Regions from separate parts of the Homo sapiens genome. Here region 1 is linked to region 2. Evidence: fine-mapped expression QTL. A gene starts in region 2. The other region holds a variant in brackets. All regions are shown on one strand. Distances are between the middles of the regions. Region 1 overlaps LOC107987105 (a long non-coding RNA gene). Region 2 holds the start of NIPSNAP3A (nipsnap homolog 3A).

Evidence for each region. PIP is the estimated chance that this variant, and not a neighbour inherited with it, causes the effect.
Region 1: its variant is fine-mapped to the expression of NIPSNAP3A in whole blood (TOPMed, PIP above 0.99).

What each region holds. Positions count from the first base shown.
Region 1 is chr9:104,722,269-104,725,181 of GRCh38, forward strand. The region is part of intron 1 of LOC107987105 (a long non-coding RNA gene); the gene reads right to left. It also overlaps the pseudogene OR13D3P. Among named protein-coding and RNA genes, the nearest start is that of NIPSNAP3A, 24 kb to the right of the region's middle. RefSeq lists an enhancer at 1,792-2,913. The variant G/A (reference allele first, on the strand shown) is at 1,206.
Region 2 is chr9:104,746,075-104,748,987 of GRCh38, forward strand. NIPSNAP3A (nipsnap homolog 3A) reads left to right here and starts at 1,609. Exons shown (of 6, transcript NM_015469.3): 1 at 1,609-1,778. The coding sequence starts at 1,719. It overlaps LOC107987105 (a long non-coding RNA gene), which reads right to left and starts at 1,565. Exons shown (of 5, transcript XR_007061705.1): 1 at 1,375-1,565. RefSeq lists a silencer at 1,503-1,592 and an enhancer at 2,013-2,172.

The sequences.
Region 1 (2,913 bases), 24 kb before region 2:
CTACATCAAAAATTCAAATTTTCCTGTCTCATGTTCTTTTCTAAACTCTGCAGATGACATGAACACATGGAGACAACAAATCACTCTGCCGTGACTGAATTCTTTCTGGTGGGGCTTTCCCAATATCCAGAGCTCCAGCTTTTTCTGTTCCTGCTCTGCCTCATCATGTACATGATAATCCTCCTGGGAAATAGCTTCCTCATTATCATCACCATCTTGGATTCTCGCCTCCATACCCCCATGTATTTCTTTCTTGGAAACCTCTCATTCTTGGGCATCTGTTACACATCATCATCCATTCCTCCAATGCTTATTATATTTGTATCTGAGAGAAAATCCATCTCCTTCATTGGCTGTGCTCTGCAGATGGTTGTGTCCCTTGGCTTGGGCTCCATTGAGTGTATCCTCCTGGCTGTGATGGCCTATGACCGCTATGTGGCCATCTGCAACCCACTGAGGTACTCCATCATCATGAACAGAGTGCTGTATGTGCAAATGGCTGCATGGTCCTGGATCATAGGCTGTCTGACCTCCCTATTGCGAACAGTTCTGACAATGATGTTGCCTTTCTGTGGGAATAATATCATTGATCATCTTACCTGTGAGATCCTGGCTCTTCTTAAAGTCATATGCTCAGATATCTCCATAAATGTGTTTATAATGACAGTGTCAAGTATTGTTTTATTGGTGATTCCTCTTAATTTTTATCTCCTATGTGTTTATTCTCTCTTCCATCTTGAGAATTAATTCTGCTGAGGGAAGAAAGAAAGCCTTTTTTACCTGTTCAGCGCACTTGACTGTGGTCATCTTATTCTATGGTTCAGTTCTTTTCATGCACATGAAGCCCAAATCAAAGTTCACAACAGCATCTGATGAAATCATTGGATTGTCTTATGAAGTGATCACCCCAATGAACCCCATCATCTACAGCCTGAGGAATAAGGAGATAAAAGAAGCTGTGAAGAAAATCCTCAGCAGACACGTGCATCTATGGAAAATATGAAAGGCCTTGAGGCATGTGACGTTCTCAACAAGGGATCAGATCAGGTGTTTTGTATTCACAGATAAAGTCACAGAATCTGGTATCAAGAGAGTGTGTATGTTTGTAAAGACAACTTTGGGATTCCCATTCTTCTCATCACAGAATGCTCATGTACACCTTCTGAATAATGTCTTGTGTGCAGAGTTTCAAGCTGTAGGTATCT[G/A]TGCTCACTGATCCCATATAGGGATAAGGTTTTTCATCAAGATAAATCTCACTCTTCTCTACTCTTTATCTCTTTCTCTTTCTTACTCACTTTTCTCTCCCTCTTCTCCATGTCCTCCTCTTTCTTGACCTTCCTCCTCTTCCCTTCTTCATCTACTTCCTTTATCTTTCTTCTGTCTTCTTGGTCTCCTTTATCCGTCATTTTGAATAGAACATCTGTTGCTTTGTTGTACAGCATCACCTCTTCTGGTAAAATAATATATCTTTTTTTTATATATATATAACAACAGTCTATTCCTCTGAGTCCATGTGGTCTGCATGGGACTAACTCAATCTTCTGGATATAGTGGTAGATGCTAAACAAAAGCCTAGCAAATAAAAAAGCAAATTCATCTCGCTACAGTGGCTCATTCAGGGTAGCAACTGAGCCAAGTCAGGCTAATCAAACTCAACCCAAGAATGCTGTCCCAGTAGGGCGGGGGAAAAAGGCACTCTTTCCACTAGGGTTGCTTAACTGGAGAATTGTGAGCCTGGAGCCAATCTTTGGCAGTATGAGCAGAGAGCCTAACTGAGATGCAAAGGGGAGTTCAGAAGGAGAGAGAGGGTGTCTGATGCTGTTAACTCCTCGATTCAGCTGTGTCTAAAGTCATTTTCACATTCTTTTTAGTTCATGAGTCAATAAATTATCTTTATATGAAAAGCTAATTTTAACATGAGGGGCATCATGGCAGACGGGAGGCAAGACTAGATTGCAGCTCCAGACAGAGCAGCGTGCAGAAGCTTACATTGTGAATTTTAGCTCCAGATCAACTGCAAGAACAAACCAGCAATCCTGAGAGGACCCACAGATGCTCTGAAGGAAGCAGACTGCTCCTGCAGGACCCAGGAGACACCCCAAATACTGTGAGTACCCCAACTGCAGAAATGGGAAAGGGAGACCCTCCTCTCCCAAACACACATCCCCACTGGAGAAGGTGAAGGTTTGTTTGCAGGAGAAGTTTCTGACTTCTGGAAGTTTACCTGGAGCTGACCTCAGAGAGCCGAGTGAAATACAGAGGTAGAGGAAGCAGCAGAAAGGCCCTAGGAGTTCACTGGGTCCCCAAGCAGCCCATTCCTGCCTGGCACCACAGGGATCCATCAGGAGGGTAGACAGAGAAGCAGGGGTAAAATTCCACAGGGACAAGGAATTCTATATCTGACCTTTGTAACAATTTGAATGGGGCGAGAAGCCTCCTGGTCAGAACGCAGAGGGCGCGAATCAGGTGTGCAGACTTCACAGGCAGAGGAAGGACTAAAGCCCTTTTCTCTTGCAGCTGGGACGCAGATAGCCTCGGACAAGTTTTCAAGCCTGTCTCACCCTCTGCCTGGACACAGACTCGGGGCTGTTGAGGGTGGCTGGGGCAAGGTGGGAGTGAGAGTAGCCCTTCAGTTTGCGTGGGAGCTGGGTGACACCTGTGACTGACAGCCTTACCCACTTTCCTGACAACCTGTATGACTCAGCAGAGGCAGCCATAATCCTCCTAGGTACCCAACTCCAGTGACCTGGAAATCACCCCCAGCCCCCACAGCAGCTGCAGCAAGACCCACCCAAGGAGAGTCTGAGCTCAAATACGCCTCGCCCTGCACCCACCTGATGGTCCTTCCCTATCCACCCCGGTAGTGGAAGACAAAGAGCATATAATCTCAGGAGTTCTAGGGCCCCGCCCACC
Region 2 (2,913 bases):
ATAAATAACTTGCAGATAACAGTTTGGGGGGAGGGGATACAGCCTTCAGTGAAATACCCAGGTCAGATCACCTCACAGTGAAGCCCACTATTTGAAGAGATTCACCTGTGCTTACAGTGCTTTTAACATGTTTTTCTCACTCCAAAATATATTTTTAATGTAAACATCAATAAACGCAGGAAGGAAAGTGTATTTTGAGGGAGTGGTATGAAGAAACCTAAATCCTAAATATCCAAGTCAATAGCTAGAATCCTGACCACTTTTAGAATTCCACTAGCACCTTTATTCGTATCTTACTTTATTTTTCTTTATATTATTTGACAATCCCTGATATATTTACTCTTCCTTTTTTTATCTGTTTCCTCCATCCTGGATGTTCCAAGAGGACGGGACTTTGAATTTTGCTCAATTCTGTACCCCAGTTTCTGGAAAAGTGCCTGGAACATGGAAGGAATTTAGTAAATATCTGTTGAATAAGTAAATGGATTGGCAATTACAGGGTTTAAAAAAAAAGGTCTAAGAAAATAATTTACTCATATAGATCCAGTCCTGATACAAATGATTTTTTTAGTCTTGCATGGTTACAAATAGATGTCTCTCTTCTAGAAAAACTGAGGCAACCCTTCCGAAATAACTAATTTTAAAAAGTCTCCCTTCCTTTGAACAGACAATTCCAAAGCTCTTCCACAAGGCACAACCAATACAACCCAGGTCATGGCCCTGCAATCCCTCCCTAGTCCTCATGATGTAAGCAATATTACATTAATGTTTACAATAATGTAATTATTAGCAAGAATAATGTAAACATTAATATAGATTACTGTAAATTAATAGTGTAATTAATTACTGTAAATTAACATAAGCATTATTAGATGCAGGAAGACAAGTGAATTTGGGGGCAGTGGCATCTATGAGACATAAATCCTCATCTGCCACAGAAGGAAGTCAACACATACTATCCATAACTGAAAATGCAATAAACAGCAGAAAACACTACTTACTTAAAAATACAGAAACAAGCATTAAATGAAACAGCTTGAAATGTTGAAGGTGGTTACTCTGGGAACCAACACTCCCGGACTGGGAGGACTAGACCAGGGTATGTTTAACTTTGACTTTTTCATTTCAGGCTCGATGCTGCCATTTCTCTGAGCTCGTGGAAAATTTAATCTAAATCTTAATTAGGAGCCTTCTAAGATGGAGAACACATTCATTGCAGAGAGGTCAGGCTCAAATACACGTCTATCACAACATCTAAAACTTAACTCGGAAAAAACCTCCACGATTTTAAATACAAAGCACTGCACATGCACGCACTCAACACCTCTCCTTCTTTCCCCATGGTCAACACACCCACAACCCCTGCACATTTACCAATCTACACAACTGAGCACTGGAGCGAATGAGGTGAGTGAGGGCCCAGAAAGTTGAAGCAGGAACGATCCGAGCCTTCAGTTAATCCTAACGTCACCTCTAACGTTTGGGGTAAGAACGTTTCAGGAAACCAAGGGGGAACCAACGCTCAGCACAGCAGAGAAAGACACCAAGCTACGGGACCCGCCGCGCCTCCCGCGCCGGGGTGGAGCTGACCCCGCCGAGCCCCGCCCCAGCCTGCGTCTGCCAATGATCCAGGAGCCGCTCCTTTCCACTCGGGAAACCTTCAGAGGAGTCTCAGAAAGGACACGGCTGGCTGCTTTTCTCAGCGCCGAAGCCGCGCCATGCTCGTCCTCAGAAGCGCCCTGACTCGGGCGCTGGCCTCACGGACGCTGGCGCCTCAGGTACCGGCCACGGGGGTACCCAAGCCTTCACCCGACGGGAGGGGAGGGGCGGGGCGGGGAGTGTTCCGGGTACGTGCGAGCAATGCGCATGCGCTCTCCGCCACGCGCGCCCAGACCTGGGGCCCCGGTGAGGTTCTAGCGTGAGCCCCGGAACCCCAAGACAGGGGTACCCGGAACGCGCGTGAGGAGGAGGCCGCTGCTAGGGGAATACCCCCAGCCGGGGTCGTCTCGCGGGCAGTGGTGGTCAGAAGGCTTTTCTAGCCTGGATGCCACACCCACCGGGACACTCCCATGGCGCCGGCTGTTTCGTTTTTGCTGCCCAGCTATGTCGCGGCTGCGGCCCAGCGAGCGCTCCCATGTTGTCACCTGGCGCTGTGGAGCCGCGGGTGGAGTCGTAGCTTTCCAAGCCACCGCCCTCTCTAGACATCAGGTTGAAGGAGGGAATTGTCAACCAGCCGCTTGCCACGGAACCGGCCTCCCCCTTTTAAATGAAGCACACAACTTCCGAGCATTTCGCGGAGACCCTTGAAGAGGAGGCCCAGGGTCCCGGTGGGGCTGGACCCTGCCCGCCACCCGCGCTTCGTGTGGTCGCTCCCCCAACCAGGCGGGACCGGAGCCTCCTATCAAACCGGACGATGACAGACAGACTCTTTTAACCTTAGATGAGAAATGGACAAAATGGAGCTTGTGATTCTGCCCTAACTTTCGGGAGTGGCCTATTCTGTGGCTTCAACCTAGAAATTTCTTTTCCTTTTGATGTTTAGGACTTTACTCCTTTCTGAAGGGGCAGGATGGGAAGGGGATTAACCTGTCCTAGAGACAGACTGAGGAGCACTAAAGAAGAGCAGCTCATGTCCATTCACCCCGGGTTAACAATGCAGTTTTTACCCTAATGATTCTCCAGTGGGGCAGGGCCAGGAATGACGTCCTTATGGCATGATTCCAAACTTTAAGTTTTTAGAAATGTCCATCAGTTGTTCTCTTTTAAGTGAAGTGGAGGTCGTTGCTGGTGGGAATGATCCCTAACTTGGAGATAAGGGAGGATGGACGACTCATGATTTCTGCCCTAGCAGCTAAAAGTCATCCCTGCAACAAAATTCTTAACTCCCATCCGGCTCCCCCACCATACCCGGCT